Homo sapiens: one gene and its partners. The protein of the gene in region 2 purifies or fractionates together with the protein of the main gene of each other region. This does not show direct contact. Each region holds a gene or a part of one and is shown on either strand. Other genes may lie near its edges. The genes, in order: NLN, LDLRAP1 and CCDC85C.

Evidence for each region.
Region 1: the proteins of LDLRAP1 (region 2) and NLN purify together in Homo sapiens (affinity purification with mass spectrometry; 3 studies listed by BioGRID and IntAct, with this or other methods). This does not show direct contact.
Region 3: the proteins of LDLRAP1 (region 2) and CCDC85C purify together in Homo sapiens (affinity purification with mass spectrometry; 3 studies listed by BioGRID and IntAct, with this or other methods). This does not show direct contact.

What each region holds. Positions count from the first base shown.
Region 1 is NC_000005.10:65,788,194-65,795,292, reverse strand, and holds part of NLN (neurolysin, mitochondrial), read right to left. Parts: coding exon 6,809-7,099; intron 2,840-6,808; coding exon 2,638-2,839; intron 1-2,637. UniProt on the Homo sapiens protein: Hydrolyzes oligopeptides such as neurotensin, bradykinin and dynorphin A. Acts as a regulator of cannabinoid signaling pathway by mediating degradation of hemopressin, an antagonist peptide of the cannabinoid receptor CNR1.
Region 2 is NC_000001.11:25,538,957-25,546,672, forward strand, and holds the start of LDLRAP1 (low density lipoprotein receptor adapter protein 1), read left to right. Parts: upstream 1-4,649; 5' UTR 4,650-4,742; coding exon 4,743-4,830; intron 4,831-4,994; exon of another isoform or gene 4,995-5,385; intron 5,386-7,716. UniProt on the Homo sapiens protein: Adapter protein (clathrin-associated sorting protein (CLASP)) required for efficient endocytosis of the LDL receptor (LDLR) in polarized cells such as hepatocytes and lymphocytes, but not in non-polarized cells (fibroblasts).
Region 3 is NC_000014.9:99,601,167-99,609,236, forward strand, and holds the start of CCDC85C (coiled-coil domain-containing protein 85C), read right to left. Parts: upstream 3,042-8,070; 5' UTR 2,794-3,041; coding exon 2,001-2,793; intron 1-2,000. UniProt on the Homo sapiens protein: May play a role in cell-cell adhesion and epithelium development through its interaction with proteins of the beta-catenin family. May play an important role in cortical development, especially in the maintenance of radial glia.

The DNA of each region.
Region 1 (7,099 bases), on a different chromosome or scaffold from region 2:
CTTCAGCCTCCCAAAGTGCTGGGGTTATGGGTGTGAGCTGCCATGCCTAGCCTTGCAAAGCCTAGCCACACTACCGCACCCAGCTAATTTTTTTTATTTTTGGTAGAGATGGGTTTTCACCATGTTGCCCAGCCTGGTCTTGAACCCCTAGGGTCAAAGCAATCCTCCTGCCTCGGCCTCCCAAAGTGCTGGGATTACAGGCATGAACCACCACGCCCAGTCAGTGCTATGAAAATGAATTTTAAAAACACCTAAGAAAGAAAGATTATTCTGAAAGATTTATTTTCCTTGGATTAAAGAGAGATTAAAAATGGCCATATCAGGACATTTCTCTGGACATACTCATATACTATTCCCCTCTGTTTTTTAAAACAAAAGATGGAAGCACCAGGTTAAAGATAAAATGTTGAAAGAACCAGTTTTTAAACAAAGGTGACAGAATTATTTTGGAAATGAATGGGTACATTTTGGGTTATTACAATGATTAGGGCTACTCTGGGATATAGGGATGCTGGATGCACAGGACTGATTCTGCACATGTCAGGACAACAAAAAGACTGTTCCATATCCTGCTCGTCATTCATACCCCCTGCTGGACTATTCACATAAATCAAAAAAACTAGCTGTAACTAAACCGAGAAACTAACCCCACTGTACATATTTTTGCAAAGCATTTTTTTTTTCTTTTGAGACCGGGTCTCACTTTTTCACCCAGGCTGGAGAGCAGTGGCGCGATCACAGCTCACCGCAGCCTCGACCTCCTGGGCTCAGGCAATCCTCCTGCCTCAGCCTTCTGAGTAGCTGGGACTACAGGTGTGTGTCATCATACCTGGCTAATTTTTGTATCTTTTGTAGAGACTGGGTTTCACAATGTTGCTGGTCTTGAACTCCTGAGCTCAGGCGATCTGCCGCCCTTGGCCTCCCAAAGTGCTGGGGTTGTGGGTGTGAGCTGCCATGCCTAGCCTTGCGAAGCATTTTTTACACCATTTTAATTTCTAAGACTACAAGTACTAGGATCTACTGTGTAAGTTGAAGTGAGATTACTTTCTTTTGAAGTTTCCCAGGAGGTGTTCATCATTTTGGAACCTCATGCCACCATTGTCAGCACTGTTCTAGGACCTGAGCTGACAACATAAACCACTTCCATCAGTTTGCACTTGCTGCTGCTCCATTCAGGGTTACTTCCATACAGTGCAAACCTCCAGCATACTTCATTATGTCTTACTGCATAGTCATATCCAAGCATTATCACTTGAAAAATACAAAAATTTCTTCTATTTATATTCAGTGAGGACACCGTATGGATTTAAGAAGATTCTCTGTATAAAGACCATTAAGGAAAACTAGTAAAATCCAAATAAACTGTGGTGTTCAGTCTGGAGTACTGTATCAATGCTGGCTTCTTAGCTATGACAAATGTGCTATTGGAATGGAAGATGTTACAAGTAGGGGTGAGAGGCTGAGGGGTATACAGGCAATCCTTATATCATCTTTGCAAGTTTTCTATGAATCTAAAAGTATCCTAATAAAAATGTTTTTGTTTTTGTTGTTGTTGTTTTTTAAGTCTACCTTTAGAGACATACAGAGATTTCAAATTTGGAAAACTGTACCTTCATTTCTGTTACTATCAGTTTTTTGGGTGGTTTTCTTTTTTTTTTTTTTAAGTCAAGGTCTGCTCTGTCACCCAGGCTGTGGTGCAGTGGCACAATCATGGCTCACTACAACCTCAACCTCCTGAACTCAAGTGATCCTCCCACCTCAGCCTCCCGAGTAGCTGGGACCACAGGCACATACCACCATGCCTGGATAATTTTTGTTTGTTTTACCACGTTGCCCAGGCTGTTCTCAAACTCCTAGACTCAAGCGATCCTTCCACCTTGGCCTCCCAAAGTGCTGGGATTACAGGCATGAGCCACCATGCCCAGCCAAATAACAGTATATTTCAACTATTACGGTGAATTGCTGAACTAGACATTTTCATATGTTAATAATGGTTAAATGTTAGCAAGTTCATATGGTTCATGCTAGAATAGTCTGGGCCTAATTAAATGGACTGTATTACAAAGTTGAGAATAAATGTACTTTTTATTTTCAGAAATAAAAAAATCAGTTTTAATCTACTGCACACATACACCTCCACTCTGGCAAATTCTTTGCATGGTTAGACTATATTATCTATGATTTTAATTTGAAGTTAGTAAAGGCAAATGTTACAAAATTATTATTTAAAAATGAGTAAAGGGTCTAAGAGGATTGAAAAACCACTAAAGTAAACAAAGCATTGATAAGCAGAAGAGACAGATTACAGCACAGTTTTTCTGAGAAATTTATATCAAATTCCTAAAGGATTAAAAGGAAAAAGCAAAGTATTTGTAACCTTTCCTTACAGATAGTCTTATTCTTTTTCCATAGGCTGTTATTCAACAAACATCTTTCACTGGTAGATGAACCTCCAAGTAAAAATATGTTGTGAAAGAGGACAGGATAAGGAAAATTTTGGTTTTGCAGAAGGCCTATAAAATTCTTGAACACATTCAGCTTCTGAAAAAACCTGTTAGGAGCAGAAACCTGACAGCAGTCAAGAAGTTTTCTAAAAAAACTAATTGGCAGGTTTACTGGGGGAAAAAAAAAACTCACCTGTGCACAAATCTGATGCATCACGTGACCAAACTCATGAAAGTAAGTCCTCACCTCGTCGTGTCTCAGGAGAGAGGGACGACCTGCCACTGGCTGTGAGAAGTTCACCACGAGGGCAGCCACTGCCATCATCCGGCTTCCATCAGGCAGAAGGCAGCCAGGCTGGAGACCGAAGCAGGCCGCATGATTGTATTTTCCTTCCCTAGGAGCCAGAAACACGCGTTGGCAACATAGGAAAATTCTCCTCTAGCAACTACACTGGCATGGCCTCTTCCAGTCATTAAGCCATATCTGTTACCAGAGATGCCTTTAAACATTAATTTACCTTTTAGAAAGTAGGTTATTTTGCTAAAATGGAAAAACTAAAGCTAAACAAACAATAACCCCACTAACATTCTGTGTGAGCTCCGAAGTTTCTTTTATTGAAAAATCTCGAGGTAAGAATGAAGAATGCATGTCACACCGACAGCTGAATGTCCAATTTATTTTAATGAGGTTCTACTTTTCTTTTTCAAAGATGGGATTACTAAACACTAAACAATGCTGAAACCCACATTTGAAATAAAAGATACAGTTTGACTCACTAGGCAGCCTTTTCATTAAAATCGGAATAAAAAACTGAATTTCTGACGATAAGGTTTTTCCTTTTATTTGAGGAGGAAAGAATCAGTAATCACAATTAAATAAGCTTCTTTTATAAACTAGACAGGCCTTTTTGAAACAGAATGCTTTTAGTTAGCCTGGGAAAATGCATAAATTATACTATCAATTAGACTATTCTTGTACAGTGTCGTATCTGTGTGGTCTTTCCAAAAGCTATTAGACTTCATTCTCCAAAAGCTATCAGACTTCATTTTGGGAGTACGTGTCCTTTCCCCCTTTTCTTTTGCTCAGAAGACTAATAGTACCTGGTCTTTTTATTTTTTTTTTTTTGAGACAGAGTCTTGCTCTGTCATCCAGGCTGGAGTGCAGTGGCATGATCTCAGCTCACTGCAACCTCTGCCTCCCAGGTTCAAGCAATTCTCCTGCCTCTGCCTCCTGAGTAGCTGGTATTACATATATACAACACCACGCTGGTTAATTTTGTTCTCTTGTTTTGAGACGGAGTCTTGCTCTGTTGCCCAGGCTGGGGTGCGGTGGCAAGATACTGGCTAACTATAATGTCCACCTCCTGGGTTCAAATGATTCTCCTGCCTCAGCCTCTAGAGTAGCTGGGACTACAAGTGCCTGCCACCACACCCAGCTAATTTTTGTATTTTTAGTAGAGATGGGGTTTTCCCACGTTGGCCAAGCTGGTCTCAAACTCCTGACCTCAGGTGATCTGCCCTCCTTGGCCTCCCAAAGTGCTGGGACTATAGGTGTGAGTCACTGTGCACAGCCTAATTTTTGTATTTTTACTAGAGATGGGGTTTCACCATGTTGACCAAGCTGGTCTTGAACTCCTGGCCTCAAGTGATCCACCTGCCTCAGCCTCCCAAAGTGCTGGGATTACAGCCACTGCACCCAGACAGTACCTGGTCTTTTTAAAACCTATTCTGAATACCCTTTTTAAAAGTCAGTTAGACAAATAAAACAAGTTAATCCCTTTTACCTTTATGAAGAGAACATCTTAAGATGACAGGAAGTAAGTATTAACTAGGTCACTACTTTCACAAAGATTACTCTCTGTTACCCACACCAGGGTGCTGGTAGCAATGACCAGATCTCTCAGTACAAAAGAAATTAATTATATCCTGGCAGTGAGACAGCAGAATGAGGTAGCAAGAATTGTTATTTGACGCTGGAAAGAAAATCTGAGGACAGTTATAGGAGACTCCAATATTAAAGGATTACTCCTGAAAGAGTTCTTCGGTTAAAACTATATCCTGATACTTTTTATTTAAAAATAAGACTCATCTATATTTGGCAGGGTTTTACTTTTAGGTCATAATATTAGTGAAAGTAAGTCCATAAAGCAGCAGGTGATGTGATTTGGCTGTGTCTCCACCCAAAGCTTATCTTGAATTGTAGTTCTCATAATCCCCACGTGTCGTGGGAGGGACCCAGTGGGAAGTAATTGATTCATGGGGTAGCCAGTCTCATGATAGTGAGTGAGTTCTCACAAGAGCTGATGGTTTCATAAGGGGCTTTCCCCTGTTGGCTTGGCACTTCCCCTTCCTGCCGCCACGTGAAGAAGGATGTGTTTGTTTCCCCTTCTGCCATGATTGTAAGTTTCCTGAGGTCTCCCCAGCCCTGCAGAACTGTAAGTCAATTAAACTTCTTTCCTTTATAAATTACCCAGTCTCAGTCAGTTCTTTACAGCACTGTGAGAAAGGACTAATACACCAGGATAATCACTTAGGTGCTAAAAGACACTTCTGCCCACCAACTAGATGACACAGTTACTCAACCTACTTTTCAGCACTCAAAGTCAGTGGATTACAAACTTGTGTGTATTACTGAATGAGGGGGATACTATACTCTCCTTTGATCTATTTAAATGATTAGTAATTGTAAGAGGTTGACTTTGCTTTAGAAAGTAGCCTGGGGAGAAAGAGATCCAAATCCTTTTGTATCTGATGAAACACTATGGAATCTATAGTTATTACATGCTATAGACACAATTATAACATTTTTATAATTGTTACCACTGATATCTGGGGAAGATGATTTGCACATATAGTCTTTAATGCATAAAACAATCCTGTAAAAGGATTTCCAGTCCCATATTACAGAGGAAGAAACAGAATCTCAAAGAGGTTATGTCACTCAAGCATTCAAACTCAAATCTGACTGACTGCAAAGGTTTTGCTACTTCTACTAAACTGTGCTGCCTCTCAGCCAGACTGAAGGGAGTGGCCATAGATTATTGGCAGACAGATTATCTAATAAATATTTTGGTGCTCAATTTTATTTATTTATGTTTTTTGAGTTAGAATCTTGCTCTGTCGCCCTGGCTGGAGTATAGTGGCGTGATCTCAGTTCCAGGGTTCAAGCTATTCTCATACCTTGGCCTCCCAAGTAGCTGAGACTACAGATGCCTGTTAAATTTTTGTATTTTTAGTAGAGACAGGGTTTCACCATATTGGCCAGGCTGATCTTGAACTCCCGACCTCAAGTGATCTGCCCACCTCAGCCTTCCAAAATGCTGGGATTACAGGTGTGAGCCACCATGTCTGGGTGGTGGTCAATATTCAATTAAGTAAATGTAGTGCACAAACTAGATGATGATGATAATGACAATGGTAGCAGCTAACTCTGATTAAGCCTTTGCTATGTGCTGAGCAGTCTTCTAAATGCTTTGCATGTATTCAACCAATTTAATCCTTACAGTGACCATACAAAGCAGGTACTACTAATATTCCCAGTTTATAGGACCTATAATATAGGTAAGAAAACTGGGGCACAGAAAAATTAAGTAACCTACCTAGTAAATGATGATGCCAGACATTCTGGCTTCAGACCCACATTTTAAATCTGTATACTAAGAAGCCCATGTGAGAAATATGGAAGAGTAGAGTCTTTTTTTAAATTAATTTTTTTAGAGATAGGGTCTAGCTCTGTCACCTAGGCTAGAATGCAGCAGTGTGATAATAGCTCACTGTAACCTTAAACTCCTGGACTCAAGTGATCCTCCTGCTTCAGCACAGCTAGGACTACAGGTGTGCACACCACACCTGGCTAATTTTTCATTTTTTTTTTTTTGAGACAGGGTCTCACTCTGTCACCCAGGCTGGAGTGCAGTGTTGCAATCTTGGCTCACTGCAGCCTCCACCTCTGAGGCTCAAGTGATCCTCCCACCTCAGCCTCTCAAGTACCTGGGACTATAGGCATGTACCACTACACCTGGCTAATTTTTGTATTTTTTGTAGCAACAGAGTTTTGCCATGTTGCCCAGTCTGGTCTTGAAGTCCTAGACTCAAGCAATCCACCTGCCTCGGCCTCCCAAAGTGCTGGGACTACAGGCATGAGCCACCACACTTGACCTAATTTTTAAATTTTTTGTAGAGACAGGGCCTCACTATGTTGCCCAGGCTGGTCTCGAACTCCTAGCCTCAAGCAATCCTCCCACCTTGGCCTCCCAAAGTGTTGGGATTACAGGCATGAGCCACTGTGCCTGGCCAAGAGTAGAGTCTTAAAGTAGGCATAGCTGAATCCCTAAGGTCCCTTCCAACAACGTGATCCTCAGTACCTTGGATAGAGGTCCAAATAGAACTGTCCCAATACTTCTCCTGTAGCTTTATCCTTCACAGTATAAAGTGTAACACTCTTGTTCCAAACATGAGCATCTGTCATTTGTTCAAATGAAAGTCCCAACAACTCCTGGTAGGTGTTCAGCAAGCCTTCAGTGACCACCTCAATTGGGAAGTATTCCTTGAGGAACTCTTGGTCTATGGAATACTTGAGTTCCTCTGTCTGAGTCATGTAGTAATATAGATCCCAGGCATTGATTTTCCCATCATATTCAAAACCCCTGTCTTTG
Region 2 (7,716 bases):
CCCAGCACTTTTGCAAGGCCGAGGCAGGCGGATCACGAGGTCAGGAGTTCGAGACCAGCCTGATCAACATGGTCAAACCCCTGTCTCTACTGAAAATACAAAAATTAGCTGGACGTGGTGGTGGGTGCCTGTAATCCTAGCTACTCAGGAGGCTGAGGCAGGAGAATCACTTGAACCTGGGAGGCGGAGGTTGCAGTGAGCCGAGATGGCACCACTGCACTCCAGCCTGGGCAACAGAGCTAGACTCCAACTCAAAAAAAAAAAAAAGATGGAGCTAGACTCCATCTCAAAAAAAAAAAAGTGTATATATATATATATATATATATGCAACATATACATCACTTACTATATGCCAGGCAGAATTCTAAACATGTCACAAACATTAACTTTTGTTAATGTCCCAGCCTGTAGGTGGGACTACAGGCGCCTGCTACCACACCCAGCTAATTTTTGTATTTCAGTAGAGAAGGTGTTTCACTATGTTGGCCAGGCTGGTTTCAAACTCCTGGCCTCAGGTGATCCACCCACCTGGGCCTCCCAAAGTGTTGGGATTACAGGCGTGAGCCTCGGCACCCAGCCTACATTAACTTTTAATCCTCATGATGACTCCATGAGGTGTAATCCCCATTATTCTAGTCTATTCAGGCTGCTCTAATAAAAATACCAAAGGCCGGCTGCCTTATAAACAACAAAAATGTATTTCTCACAGTTGCAGATGCTGGGAAGTTCAAGTTCAAGGTGTTGGCATATTCGGTCTGGCGAGGGCCGGCTTCCTGGTTCATAGATGGCTGTCTTGTCACTGTAAGAGTGAACAGGGCCAGGAATCTCTCTGGGGTCTTCTTTATGCTCATCCCATTCATGAGGGCTCTGCTTTCATGAAAGGATTACCTCCCAATGGCCCCATCTGCTGATACCTTGAAGGTTAGGATTTTGACATACGAATTTTGATAGGACAGAAACATTCAGTCCATTGCACCAATTTTACATTTTAGAGGAAACTGAGGCCTGTGGAATTTAAATAATTTGCCTAAGGCCATGCAGTAAAGAAATAGGGAAGCCTGGATCCCGGGATGCAGCATCAGTGTGCTTCACTACTGCGCTCTGGTGTCTTCCACTAATAACTCCCATTTTACAGATGAAGAAACAGAGGAAGGGATTGGCTCAGGGAAGTAGGGAGGACAGACCACCTGAGGAAACCAGGGACTCTCATCCCAGCTTAGGCTTTTGTCTTGGTCCCACTGCAAGCCCAAATGATGGCTGGAGAGAGGCTGACAGCCCTGTCAACTCCTTGGCATCCACTATCTCGCTGGGGTCCTGTGGGTCCACTGAGGAAGAAATTAGTAAGATTGTAGCTGATGCCATTTGACTAAAGACAAAAGCCATTTATTCTTATAGGTAGCTCCCCGACCCCGTTTATTGTTCTTTTTCTGATTACTAAAGGAACATGATCACTGCAGAAATGTTTACAAAGTTAGAGCAGATAAACAGAAAACCAAACAAAAGAGAAAAGAAAAATCCCCTTTCAAGCCCCTCTTGAATCTCAGGACTTATTTTTTTCTTTTCTTTTCTTTTCTTTTTTTGAGACGGAGATTCGCTCTTGTCGCCCAGGCTGGAGTGCAGTGGCGTGATCTCGGCTCACTGCAACCTCTGCCTCCTGGGTTCAAGCGATTCTCCTGCCTCAGCCTCCCGAGTAGCTGGGATCACAGGCATGCGCCACCACGCCCGGCTAATTTTGTATTTTTAGTGGAGACGGGGTTTCTCCACGTTGGTCAGGCTGGTCTCAAATTCCCGACCTCAGGTGATCCGCCTCAGTCTCCCAAAGTGCTGGGATTACAGGCACGAGCCACTGCACGCGGCCCTACTTCTTTGCCTCCTCCTCGTTGTTATAAGCATCCAAGGTGGGAGGCAGGAGACCTGGCATCTGTTCCTGGCTTGCTGTGTAACCTTGCGTAAGTCCCTGTCCCTCTCTGGGCCTTAGGCTCCTCATCTGTGAAATGAGGGTTTGGCCACAGTGACCTCAGAGGAGGCCACTCGCAGCTCTGACCTTCTGTTTCTGCTTCTGTTTCTGGGATTGGCAGAAGGGGCACTAGCAGGCTGCCCCTCTGCAGGGGACACATGGCTGACAGCTCGCAGCAAGCCATCTCCGGGAAACTGCAAAGGCTGGTAAACAGTTCTCGTTGCACACGCAGCGTTCCCAGGCCTTCCTGCTTATCAGGCCCATATGGTGCCCCCTGCCAGCCGGACACCACCAGCTGCCCTTGGCCAGTCTGCCCTGGGTGATCACTTTTCCTCCCTGCTTCAGAATGCTCTCTCTACTATTCCAGAATCTAGCTGGCTTGGGATAAGTGAGCTGGGGGCACTCAGCCCTGTGGACCCATCTACCTATTGCCACAGCCCTTTTGCAGAAGGCAGCCTGGTTTGGTGAAAAGCTGGAGAAAGGGAGAAGGGGAGGAAAGGAGGGAGGAAGGACAGGAACACTGACTGTGTTCCAACTCCATTTGGACCCCTTACTAGGCATTTGGGATTCAGAAATGAATCAGAAAAACTTCCTGCTTTTGGAGGGTACAAAGTCTAATGGAGATGAGAGGAGTATAAACAGGCAGCAGTAGTGCTTGCAATCCTGAAAGTTCAGGACTGTGGGCGCCCACAAAGAGAAACTTAATCCATGGGTGGTAGTCAGGGAAGCCTTCCTGGAGGAGGCAACTTTAAAGGTGGGTTCTCAAGAACAGGATTCAGCCATTCCAACTCCTGTTATTTAGTCCTTAAGGACAGCCCTGTGAAATAGATATAGTTGTCCCTTTTACAGATGAGGCTCAGAAGGGTGAGTTCACAACCACCAGAAGGACAGCTGGGTTCTAACCCCTGGCATTATACTCTACCCCATTGCCTATGGGCCTGAGTCTGATCCCAGTCTCTGACTCTCGGAGACTATCAGTGAATGCTTCCCTCCCTGACCTAGGGCTGTCATCTGTAAAGTGGGTCCACCTAAGCAGTGTTGCTGGGGAAGCCAAGGACAGACTGGCTAACAAAGCACTTGGTTTATAAACAGGGGAATGTCAGTGAGGCCGCCCTATCCAGCTGGGGACAGCACAGCACTATCTTTCTCCCGACACAGAGAGGACTGCTGGCTTCTGAGCCAGGAGTAATTACAGAGGTTGAAGTTGGCCTTGCCTGAGGCACCCCCTTCTAAAAGAAGCCAGGCTGTGGCTTGGATGTGTGTGTCCTCCCTCTGGCTCCTTTTGGCACAGTTTGAAAGGAAGGCATGGCATCCTAGAGAGTTAGAACAAATCCTTCCAATCCTGGAGTTAGAACATCTGTGCCTGAGCAATTCTGGGGTTCAGACTGCCCTCCGAATGCTCCTAGGAAGCAGCTTGGGGTCAGGGTCAAGGTCATGCAGATTCTTGACCCTGGCAGGTTGGAAGGATCACTAGAGATAGCATTGACTCTCATTCACAGATAAACAAGACTCAGAGAGGGGAAGTACTTGCCTGAGGTCACACAGCAAGTCAGTGTCAGGGGCACGTTCCAGATCATACCATCTGTGAGGCTACCTGGGAAGTTGCGGGGGCATGGGGTGGCCCAGCATGCTCAGGTGGTGCCAGGGAGCAGCCTGGGAGCTACGAGGATGAGTAAAGTGCCTGGCTGGACTTGCTAAAGGCAAATTTTTATATACCGACCCTGCGCCTAACAAGGGTCTATACTGCAAGCTTGTCCAACCTGTGGCCCACTGGCCATGTGAGGTCCAGGACGGCTTTGAATGGAGCCCAACACAAATTGGTAAAGGTTCTTAAAACATTATGAGATTTTTTTGGGCAGGGTGTGGTGGCTCACAGCCATCCCAGCACTTTGGGAGGCTGAGGCGGGCAGATCACTTGAGGTCAGGAGTTCGAGACCAGCCTGGCCAACATGGTAAAACTCCATCTCTATTAATAATACAAAAATTAGCCAGGCATGGTGGTGCATGCCTGTAATCCCAGCTACTCGGGAGGCTGAGGCATGAGAATAGCTTGAACCCGGGAGGTAGAGGTTGCAGTGACCCGAGATCGCACCACTGCACTCCAACCTGGGCAACAGAGTGAAACTCTGTCTCAGGGGAAAAAAAACAATACAGAAAAACAAAAAACATGAGTGTGTGTGTATATATATATATTTCAGCTCATCAGCTGTCGTTAGTGTTAGTGTATTTCATGTGTGGCCCAAGACACTTCTTCTTCCAATGTGGCCTAAGGAAGCCAAAAGTTTGGATATCCCTGGCTTACAGCCTCCACTATTTCCTAAGTCTCCCACTGCCCTGGACATCGCATTGCTTTTGTCCCTGAACAAGATCTTTCACCACTGGAGGAGCCCTCAGTCTCCCCATCTGTAAAATGGTCACTGGAAATCCTAGGCCGCTGCTCTCAGGCCCTCAGGCCCCTACGGGGTGGGGATTGGGGAAAAGGAGGAAAGCGGGGGCGTCTAGGGCTTGCGATTTGCTATCTTCTGGCGCCTTCGGGCGGCCTCGGAAACTCTTGGTGCCTGGACCTGGAGCCTGGACAGGGACCGGGCGGGGCGAGACCGGCCGTCGGGGGCGCGGCCCGTCTGGGGGCGGGGCCTGTCCTCTCTCGCCCCGCCCCGTCGGACGCCGCGGCGGAGCTGGCGCTGGGAGGGGAGGAGCGCGCAGCCCGCGCGCCGCAGGGCCGGGCGGAAAGTTTTTCCTGACGGAGTTTTGGCTGCGGCAGCGGCGGCGGCGGCCGGAGCGGGCCATGGACGCGCTCAAGTCGGCGGGGCGGGCGCTGATCCGGAGCCCCAGCTTGGCCAAGCAGAGCTGGGGGGGCGGTGGCCGGCACCGCAGTGAGTGTGCGCGCGTCAGCCGGGCCGGGCCGGGATCGGGCAGAGGCGCGCGGGGCCTCCGCGGGCGCCCGGAGTGCGGCCAAGTTGGGCAGAGGCGGGGCCTCACCGGCGCTCCGGTCCCGGCGTGGCCCTTTCCCGGCCCTGCGGGGCAGGGGGTCGGCCGGGGTCAAGTTGTGCACCTACTCGCCGGCCGCTCGATGCCGCTGCGAGGAGGGGCAGCGCTGAGGAAGGAGCCCGAGCTCGGGGTCCTCAGGTGCAGCCGGCATGGGGTGGGGTGCAGGTTGGGAGAAGAGGCCCCCGCCACCCGCGGCACCTCCCGCCCTGCTGTCCTGGCCAGCTAGGGGGAGGCAGGCGCTCGTCGTCGGTGCCTAGGGGAGGAGGAGAGGGCGCAGGGGCTTGGGAAGACGCCCCCGTCCCGCACCCCTGCGCCCCAGCCAGCAGCTGCGGCGGTCAGGAGCCCACTGGCCCGTTCTCCCGCCCCCTGCCCGACCCACCGGGCCAACTTTTGACTCCGGGTGCCCAGACACCCATCCAGGTGTGAGCCCGGGGTCGCAGGTACGTACTTGAAATTGGGAACGAGGCCCCGCCTGGGGTGCCTCGGGAGAGCCCCACATCAGGCGATCTAGACCCTTACGTCCCTTCCTCTAGCCGGGTCCAGGTGGCAAGCCTGGCGTCCCGACTATTTTTGAAACCTGTTTTCTCTCGCACCTTTCCCCTCGGGCTTCCAGAGTCCCTTGGGTGCCCAGGCAAACGACAGACTCGCCGCCACCTCTCCCTGGGGCGTCTGGGAGGCTGGGAGGGGCCTCCCCCCCTTTCTCTCCCCCAGTCTCTGATTACGCTCAGGGAACTTGTCACCTGGCACCTTCCCCTGAAGCCAGAAGACCCAGCCTAGCGCAGGTCTCGTTGTTTGGGAGGGAGAAGAGAGTGGCTTGCCTGGGGTCACACACACCTTCCTGCTGGTTTTGGAGCCAGAGCCCAGGACTGCTGCACACTCCCACCTCCCTGCCACCTACTTCGGGCCACAGCTTCTCCCCTCATCAGGAAACAACTGACAGTACAGCACCCCCTCATCCCATCCCCTCTTGGCCTTACAGGGCTCTGCCAGGGGAGCCCGAGCTCCCTGGTCCAAGGAGTGCCAGCGTGTCTGGGCCTAGAGGGCCCGCCTCCCTCCTCCTCTGGCCCCACTCTGTTGTTCAGCTGTGGCCGCCTCCCAGCTGAGACTGGCATTGGCATTGGGAATGTGGGGTGGTGCCTGCTGGTGGGGGGTGGGGTCAGAGACCCATTAGGGCTGGGCCACTAGGCCAGGGGATGTACCGTTTATCACACTGATTGCATCCCAAAATAGACCCTTTAAAAACTGGCAAGATTTGACCAGGACTTCTGAGATGGCCATCTGTTCCAGTGGGAGAATCCTGCGGGTTTTCTCCAGGAATGAGGGAGGGAGGGTGGTGGGGCAGCCCCCAGGGAAGTGGTTTTGAAGGAAGGGGGGCTGGCAAGGGAAGGGAGGCTAGAAAGAAATATCTCTGAATCTGGGGACGTGGAAGAGGTAGCCGCTTTGGATGTGGAAGAGAATTTCTCTTGCCATCTTCAATCTTGAGCAAGTCACTTGTCCTTTCTGATCCTCGGTTTCCTCATCTGCAACATGGGGATAAAAACTCTTACCTGGCAGGAGTATCAAGGAGATTATTGGTAATAATGCTCCCTCCTAACTGGTGGCTTTCTTCTCCCCTGCTCCTCTTCCCCCTGCCTATCCTTGGGACGCTGCCAGCATGATTAGTACTGTGGTGAGATGGGTTTTGGGGGCCCCGAGCCTGTCTGCACCTTTGGAGGAAAGGAGAGGAGCACCTCTCCCCCTCCTCCAGGCCCTGGTAAGCCCAAAGTGCTGTCCTGGAGCCTCTGGATCTGAAGGAGGGCAGGCCGAGCCCCACCTGTCCCTCGTGATGAAGTCTCAATTTCCTCACCTGTAAATTGCAAATAACAGTAGTACCTGCCTCCAGCTGTTTGTGGGGATCAAGTGGAATTGCGTTTGCCTGGCATAGAGGAGGAGTTTGGTAAATGGTAACTGCTGCTTTTGTAACTGTTTTACAACCTGTTTTTGCTTCCATTCTCTCATTGACTCCTGTGAGGTGACAGAGCAGACCCATTTTAGAGACAAAGGAACTGAGACTCTGAGCATTGGAGTCATTGGCTCCAGACACAGAGCATCTAAGAGGCAGAGCTCCACATTCCTAGCGCAGGGGTCTTACCAGTGTGCTTGGTGAACTCTGCCATGGGAGGAGCTGGGAGCAGGCCCCACCTACCCCACGCTGGGCTGGCAGCCTCTGACAGCAGTGGCCACAGGTTAGAGCAGGGGCCATGGGGTATGTGGGGGTGGGGGTGCTAGGGTCACCTTGCTCAGGGTTGTGACCCAGCCTGGCCTTGGACCTGGTCCCTGTGGTTGAGTTTTGAGGCCAAACTGAAGCCAGTGGAGTTAAAGTTAGACTCGAACCCTGCTCTCAGTTGTGACCTGCTCCTCCTCCTCAAGGTCCTCACTAGGATTAGCATGAGCATTGCTTATTTGTGGAGAAAGAAGCCCAGAGAAGGGCAGCACCTTGCCTGAGGTCACACAGCAAAGCCAGCACCCCAGGCTTCTTTCCACCCAGCTTCATGCCTGCAGTGGATTCCTGGTTGTCCTGACCTTGAAAGAGGGCTCTCTTCCTCTCCCACACATGGCTTTTCCTATCCCCTGGGGAGACATCAATATTTTATCTCAGTCCCTGGCCAGGCATTTTCCTTCCAGCTGCCTGGAAGAGGGGCTCACCTTGGCCCCTCAGCACTCTTTCCAGAGGTACTGGGATCATTCAGGCCCTCCGGTTATTTTGTGGGTTGTGCTTACCCAGAGAGAAG
Region 3 (8,070 bases), on a different chromosome or scaffold from region 2:
TTCCATCTGTAACCGAAATTTGTAATAATAATGCTGAATTTTCATTTCACCCCAAAGCAAGGTTTGCTGCCACAACATTTGCAGCAGTCCTGTGCTAAGTGGGCTTGGGGGAGGATGGGTTCTGTGGGAAACCCTATACTTCAACCTCCCACTGACCCCCAGTGGGGTGGAAAACTCAGTGTAGCCTAGTCCTCCACTCCTGTATTATTCACTGTCGCAGCTGACATGCTGAGCCAGACTGGGGCCGCATCTCCTTGCCCAAAACTCGACAGAGCCTTTCCTGCAAGTATGCTCTAAACACTCCAGCCCTCCAGTGTCCTGCAGAGAGGCACTCTTGCCAAGTGTCATTGATGACGCAGCTGAAAACCAGAAACATTTCACTTTCCAGCCACGAGACTGCAGCAATCTGCTCTTTGGACTGCACTTAGGGAAACCGAGGCCCAGATAACTGACCCCTCAAAAGCCCCCAGGACGGCAAAATCAAAGGGGCTGAGGTGCTCTGAACAGCCCCAGCAAATTAAACCACCTAACTTTGCGCTACTCCCACTGCCCTGAAGCAGCCTGTGGTGGGAGGTGGGGGTGGATACAGTGTTACAAAGAGAAACCTGAGTTGTAGCCATAGATTGCTAATCAGTAACAAAATATCCCTCTAAACCCAGTCCTGCCTTGAACCCACAGGCTCAGGATGGTAAATAAAGGAAAAACATGCTGCACTGCCCCTGCCCCACCTCCATGGGTATGTCTCCCACCCCAGCCCCCACCCCAACACGTCTGCAGAGGCCACTTGGCCACCAAACTAAGGAGAAAACGTCCCTCCCCAGCTCAGGCTGAGGGGTTCTGGGGAGGGCAGTTATTGCAGGCTTAGACACACTTTCTCTGAATTAGGAAAGGCTTTAAAGGGAACCAGAAAGAGCTGTTCATTCTCCACCTTCAGGCAAAAAGTTCAGGCAGTTGCAACTACCAGCAGAACTGGAAGCCAAGCTACCAAAAAACGTGGAAGAACAGGGAGGCCCCGGATCCACCAGCGAGGAGGAGAAAGCTGGCAGGGAGCAGAAGGGCTGAGCAGGGGGCTGGGAGAGGGAGCAGGCTGCAAGCTCCCACAGCCCCAAGCTGGGGCCACCCTCTGCACTGGGCGCAGCAGTAACATGGGCGTAGAAGACAGAAGCTGACAGAGGCCAAAGTTCCTCCCACCCACACCCTGGTCACGGATGACCACGGCACTTCCTGTAAGGCGATCAACAGTTTATAAATCCCTTCAGAAGGTTTATCTCCACCTCAAACCCACGAGGCAGAGGTCATCATCTCCATTTCACAGACAAAGAAACTGAGGCACACAGAGGAGAAAAGCTAGAATCCGTTCCAAATACATCTCCCTCGGGAAAGTCTTAGAGTCTCGGCTGAGAAAGGTCCCAGGACTAGAAGGGCGGAATTTATGGCAAACAAGAAAGGCTCTGAGCCCCAGGCCTCTCCCCAACTGCCTCTGGGTCTCAAGCGGCTGCCTGTGCACCTTCCCAATCCCCACACCCCACTGCAGAACTCCAGCCACCGCACACACGTGGACGCTGCTTGGTTTGGAGGACACCTGTTGCTGCAAGAGGGGAAATTCACTTGCGCTCAAGGGGCCTTGTATCCTTTGCTGTTTAGAACTTCCCGCTACTAGGCAAGGATTTCCAAGGCTGGGATGAGGCGCCCACCGCCAGCCCAGCAGTGACAGACCCTAATTTTGGCAACTACACCCGCTAGAAACTTTTCTGGGACCGGACCGGCAGCAGGTTCTGAGCTGGACAAAAAGACGCTCCACCACTGAACCGGCCCACCACCGCCCAAAGCCCCACTTTGGGTGAGTGCGGGATCCCCTGGCCCAGGATCCATGACAGCTGGAGGAGTCTGGAGTGGCGGCCGCATGAGTGGGACAGCCAGGGACCACCTCCTCTCGCCGCAGCCTGGGAAAAGGGCTGCAGCCAGGGAGACCCGCGCTGCCCGGCCCGTGTAGTCCTTACCGTGCAGGCCGTTGGGGATGCTGCGGTGGTGCGGCGGCGCCGACAAGTCGTCCAGGGACCGACGTGTGGCTCCTGCCTTGCCGTCGGGGGCCTTGTGCGGCCCGGGGGGCAGCAGCGGGGGTGGGACGTGGTGGTGGTGGTCGGGGCTGCCGCCGCTGCCCGCGCTGGACGTACTGCTGCCGTCGCCCACGTCGCGGGCCCCCGCGCCGGGCGCGCCACCCGACAGCGGCCCGCTCAGGCTGGCCTGGCTGTCGATGGAGCTGCGGGAGCCGGCGCCGCCCCCGCCGCCGCCGCCACCGCTTGCGGCCCCCGTCGCCGCCAGTGCCGCGCGCTCCTCGTCCAGCAGCAGCACCAGCTCCTTGAGCTCCAGGTTCTCGCGCAGCAGGGCCTCCTGGCGCGCCTCGAGCTCGCGCAGCTTCTGCTGCGAGCGGGCCACCTCGTGCCACACGGCGCCGGCCGCGTGGCGCCCGAAGCGCTGCCACTCGCGCGCCAGCTTGCGCCCCTTCTGCCGGTCGTCGTCGAGGAAGCAGCAGAGCTCGCGCAGCTCCTGGTTGTCGTCCTGCAGCCGCTGGTTCACGTCCTTGAGGCCGCGGATCTCCAGCAGGTGCTGCTGCAGCCGCCGGTTCACGTCGCGCATCAGGCCGCCGTGCTCCAGCATGAGGCCCACCTTCTCGCCCTCGGCGCGCCGCAGCCGCCGCGCCAGCTCCTCCTTGCTCCAGCGCAGCAGCTCCTCGTCCGGCACCTGGCTCAGCTCCTCCGACGCCGCCGCCGCCGTCGCCGCGGGCTTAGCCATGGCGGGGCCGTCACCGCGGCATCGCCCTCGCCCTCGCCCGGCCGGCGCTTCCCCGCGCCGGGGCTCCGCTGGGCCGGTCCGCGCGCGGGCGGGGGGCGGCCGGGGGCGCGTGCGGCCCGCCCCGCGCCGCCTGGCGCGTCCTCTCGCCGCGCCCGCCGGGGCCGCCCGGGAGCCCGCGCGCCTCGGGGTTGACGAGCGGAGGCGGCTGCTGCGTCGGCGGCCGCGGTGCCGGGCGCTCTCAGGGTTCTGGAGAAGCAGGCGGAGGCCCGCCCCCGGCCCAGCTCCCGGAGCCCCCGCCGCCCCGCCCACCCCGGGCGGAGAGTGGGCGGGTCTCCGAGGCCCGGCCCCGCCCCCGAGGGCGACTGGGGAGCAGAGGCGCGGCCCCCGCCGTCCCCCTGCGCGGTGCGCCCGCCCGTCCAGTGCCCTCTCAGAGGCGCGTTCCGGCCGCGGTCCCGCCCTCCCGGCCGGGCGATTGGGCCGCTCCGGGGGTGTGCGGGAGGGGCGGGGCGCGCGCGGGGGAAGCTGCGGCGGTGGTACGGTCCATCCGCGGGGTTTCCGACCCCCGCCCGCGGCCGGCTCCCGGCGGTTCAAGTTTCTGCGCCCGGAGGACGCGGCCTTAGCCAATCCCAGGGCTACAGGGCGCTTTTAAAATGCAGGTACGGCTGCGGGGAGGGGGACGGTGGGAAAGGTAGGGCCGGGCTTCCCTTAAAGGCGACGCGCGAAAATAGCAGTCGAGCCCCCTCCCCGGCCCGCGTCCCCGGTCCTCTTCCCTCTCCCCAGATAAACAAATACCCACGATCCGGGCGACGGCGCCCCTTCTCCCTCCCGGGGGCACCAGAGTTCAGGGCAGTCGGAGACACAGCGAACAATAGGACTGTGACATGGGGGTCGCTCTTCCCCGCAGCAGGGCGGCTCTTTGTCCCCTTCCCTGCCCCCAGGCTCCTCCGCCCCCGTCCCCACCCGGGTCCCCTGCCGGAGCACGCGGCGGGGCTGCGTCTCCACTCCTAGCCCAGGGCTGAGCTAAACGCTGGCGTCCGCGCCCCTGCAGGGCCAGGGCCTTGCCAGCCGCGTCCCGCAGCGCGGTCAGTACTCTCTGCCCCGATGGGGCGAGAGCTCCGGGAACCTGCCCCCTGCCCGGAGCGGCGCTCGGAGCCCCGCTCCACCTCCGCTCACTCGACCGCTAAATCCCTGGGATTCGGGAGATAATCTGCAATTCGCGGGGTGGAAACCACTGGGAAGGGTGGGAAGGTCTCCCACTGGGGCCTGAACGCCGGGGTCCGGGGGCGCCGAGCCGGCCACAGAACTCCCCACCGGCGGCCTCGCGGGACCCCCGGGCTTCCCACTGCCTGTAAGTCTGTCTCGTTATCCTCCGGTCCCCAAAGCGCATTTACGGCGCGTCTACCGCCAGCAGGCGGGGCGGGGCGGGGCGGGGGGGGGTCCCTCCCCCGGAACCTGCAACGAGATCAAATCCGCGCACGCGACAGTGAGCGGCCCACGGCCTGGAGCGCGCGCCCGCGCAGCAGCTGATGCCCCATTTACAGTTGCTAAGCCGTTCATTCAGCTGTGTACTCAGCGCCTACTCGCCGCGGGGCCTGCTCCAGCCCCGGGGGATTCTGCAGGGCACCGAACTGCCCTCTGCGGGGGACTTGGCGTCCTGGGAGCAGGATGGGGAGAAGATAGACGAGCTAGATCAGGATGAGACTTGTCTTAAGTGCTGTGCGGGGCATTAAGTCGAGCTGCTGTCATAGAAAGCATAATCAGTTGCTTTAGATCCAGCGGTCAGGGAGGTGGGGAGGCACATCTAAGCTGAAGTCTGATTGGCAAGGTACAAAGATAAGGGGAAGGGCATTCCAGGCAGCAGGAACAGCCAGTGCCAAGGCCCTAGGGCTGGCCTGTTACAGACCTGTTCCAAGAAGGCCAGTGGGGCTGGGGGTGGGCCAGGGAAGAGGCGTGAGAGCTGAGGTCAGAGGTCAGAGGGGCCAGATCATGTATGATTCCAAGACAGCTGGGGAGGCAGTGGGGTTTTAGCAGGGAAGCAACATGACCTGGTTTACCTTTTTAAGAGGCTCACCCTGGCCCACATGTTGAGAAGAGATGGAGGGGAGTACACAGAGAGGTCCAGATTCAATATCTCATCTCCCACCCGTTCGCCACTCTCTCCAGACAGATGGTCAGGGGAGGGTGGTGGGGAGAGGATGGGCTGAGCACAGCTTCCAAGGTTAAACCCCAGGGATGCTGAGGGTCTCCCAGGCCCTGCCCAAGAGAACCAGCTCCTGAGGGGAGGGGACATCCTCCCCTCTGAGGCACTGCTCTGCTGGTCCAGCACAGCTCAGTTTGGGTTTAGAGAGGGAGGGGCTTTCAGCTTCTGCCTGGGGGAGCTGCAGGTCTGTCTCAACCCCCAGGAAGCCATATTAACTTCAAGGAGCTCCTTGCAGGCTCCCTGCAGAATGAAGCCTGTGCACAGAGTTGCTCCCTGGAGATCGAAGCGTAAACGTTGGATACACCATAGGAAAAACCCACCAGCTCACCAGGGAAGTTGCTGAGACAGCACTGTGCTTTGTGAGAACCCCCTCCCCGTTCGTGCATGGCTCCTGGTGGTTCCTGGGGCCTGTTATCTCTGCCCCCTGATCCTCCAGAGCTGGCAGCTTCCGCTGAACTTCCAAGAAGAAAGTGAAGCCTCTATCTAGGTGGGGTTTGTTTGCGTCATCTACAGGCTGTGTGGACCAAGGACCAAGAGTTCCTCTGTGGAGTCTTGATAGCTTTGCTCACATCCTCAGGGTAGAACAAAGACAAGGTGCTAGTGGTGGTGGTACTGGGTGGTTTGAGGGAGGGTCTCTCTGCTCCCCACACCAGGGCTGGGAATGCTTGGGCAGAACAGGACAGGACCAGAGGAGGTGAGAGGGCCCAGGGCTGAAACAGCGTCCTGAAGGAAAAGGGACTCCCCAGGCCAGAGCCCCCTCCCGGAGGGCCCATATCGCAGGGTCCAGCAGTAGGTGCCATGCCCCCTGGAGTACTCACAGCCCAACAGAACCAGGATCCCAAAATGTCAACGTGACTTTGCCTTTTTTTTTTTTTTTTTTTTTTTTTTGGCTAAGACAGGGTCTCACTCTGTCTCCCAGGCTGGAGTGCAGTGGCATGATCTTGGCTCAGTGCAGCCTCAACCTCCGGGCTCAAGAGATCCTCCCACCTCAGCCTCCTGAGTAGCTGGGACCACAGGCACCACCATGCCTGGCTATTTTCTTTTCTTTTCTTTTTTCCCCCATAGAGACAGAGTCTCACTGTGTTTCCCAGGCTGGTCTCAAACTCCTGTGCTCAAGCAATCCAATTCTCCTGCCTCAGTGACTTTGCTTCTTAAGCCCCTTGGTCATGACAACTCTGCTTTGTTATGAAAACAGTGAAACCAAATCATGGTGCACTAACAGTCATACTGTAGGTGCCCAGGGAAAGTAGCTGTGAGTCTTTTCAAAATAAAGGTGCCCCACCAACATTCTACCCCCCTTTTTTTAAAGACTCTCCCAGGATGTGTGTGTTCATTTAGAGCCACACACATTTGTGAGAGCCAGCAGGGGCTGAGAACCGGTACGCTAACACACGGTAGATGCTAATACATGGTAGACAAAATACTCCAAAACCTAGGGCCTGTGGGGGGAGTACTGGTACAAGCTGGTGACAAGCAGAGTGTGCCCCTCACTTTCAGGGGGAATGGACTTTCTTACTCTTCTCTATGGTTGGGGCTGTGAGCTCCAACCCCAGAGGCAGTACCATTTGGTGTTTGCTGAGTGAATGTCAAACCTCTCAGTACGTGACAGATTGAGTCTGAGGCTTCATTTTGAAGGTGAGGAAAAACAGAGCCCCAGAAGGGAGATGCCTGGCCCAAGGTCACTTTCATTCATTAGCTCACTGAACATAGAGGAAATCTATGAGTATATATGCATTTATACACAAACACATTTAAATGGGAATATATATATACACATTGCAATGCATTGTGGTAAGTACTGCAAATGAGAATGGGCAGAACACATCATTGTGGGAGCATGCTCAGGCACTGGGAGTGGCTTCCTAGAGGAGGTGAATCTTGAAGGAGTTTGTCGTCTTGTGGAGTGGGGAGGAGGCTCCAGGTGGAGGAAGCAGTACAAGCAAAGGCCCAGAGGTGAGCAGGCGAGGGGTGTGGAGAGACACTATTACACCTTGCAGCTGGGGTATACAGAAGGGAACAGCAGGGTGGGGAAAGTCGGGAAGAGGTTGAGCGATGGAGCTGGGCAGAGGAGGGCTTTGTAAGCCTCAGAAGGAAGCTGGACCCTTTCCCTGGGAGCTCTGATATCTAATAATAATGGCAATGACAATGACAATAACCAACACCACCTGCCGCTTATCCTAGACTCAGTATATGCCAATGATTCTAACCTGTCCTCTTTTGAGGGTTATAATAAACCTATGAGGAGGTGTCATTAGCCCTTCGAGGATTGAACATGGGTTCTTATTGGCTGGTTGTTTGCCTCCAAGAAGCTCAGCTCATTGGGCGTGAACTTACAGGCAGTGTTCAGAGGCTTGTGGACACCCAAGGACTCTGGTATGGCCAACAAAGTGTTTGGTGGTAGCTGAATCTTCTTCAGGACAGTGAGGCAATGGTGGCTGACCAGGTCTGGGCCAGACTATGAGGTATCATCCTGAAAGGCTACCAGCAGCAAGAAGTCAGGGTCCACTGAAAAGTGGTTAAGTGTTACTAATATGGACAATGTTGACTGGGCACTTTCTAGGTACCCAGCACTGTGCTAGAGTTCCACATAGATTGTCTCACTGACTCCTCACTGATGCGGTAAGAACCCTCTGTTCCCATTTTACAGAGTAAGAAACTGAGGCTCACACAGGTTAAGTCACTTGCCCAAGGTCACATGGCTAGCAAGTGGCTGAACCAGGATTTGAACCCAGGACCATCTGAGCTCCAGAGTGTATCTGACCCCATAGACTACTGTCTCCCACACCTCAGTTTCCCTTCTCAAGAAGGAGGAATGGGGTGGATGCTCTGCGATGTCTCTTCTGCTGTGACTCTGGTTCTGTGATGCTGAGTGTCTGCAAGGTGCCTGGACCCATGTTCACCACCCACTTCCTCCTGCTTCAGGCTTTTCCATGTTGTGACCAAGCCTCAGTGGCTCTGACGCCTCTGGATGGCACCTGTGGTCAGAGCTCTCCAGCTATTTCTACTGATAGAACACTGCATGTCATTAGCTCAGTCTCCCTGCAACTCTATCACTGTCTGGGTGGGTGACCCTAGAC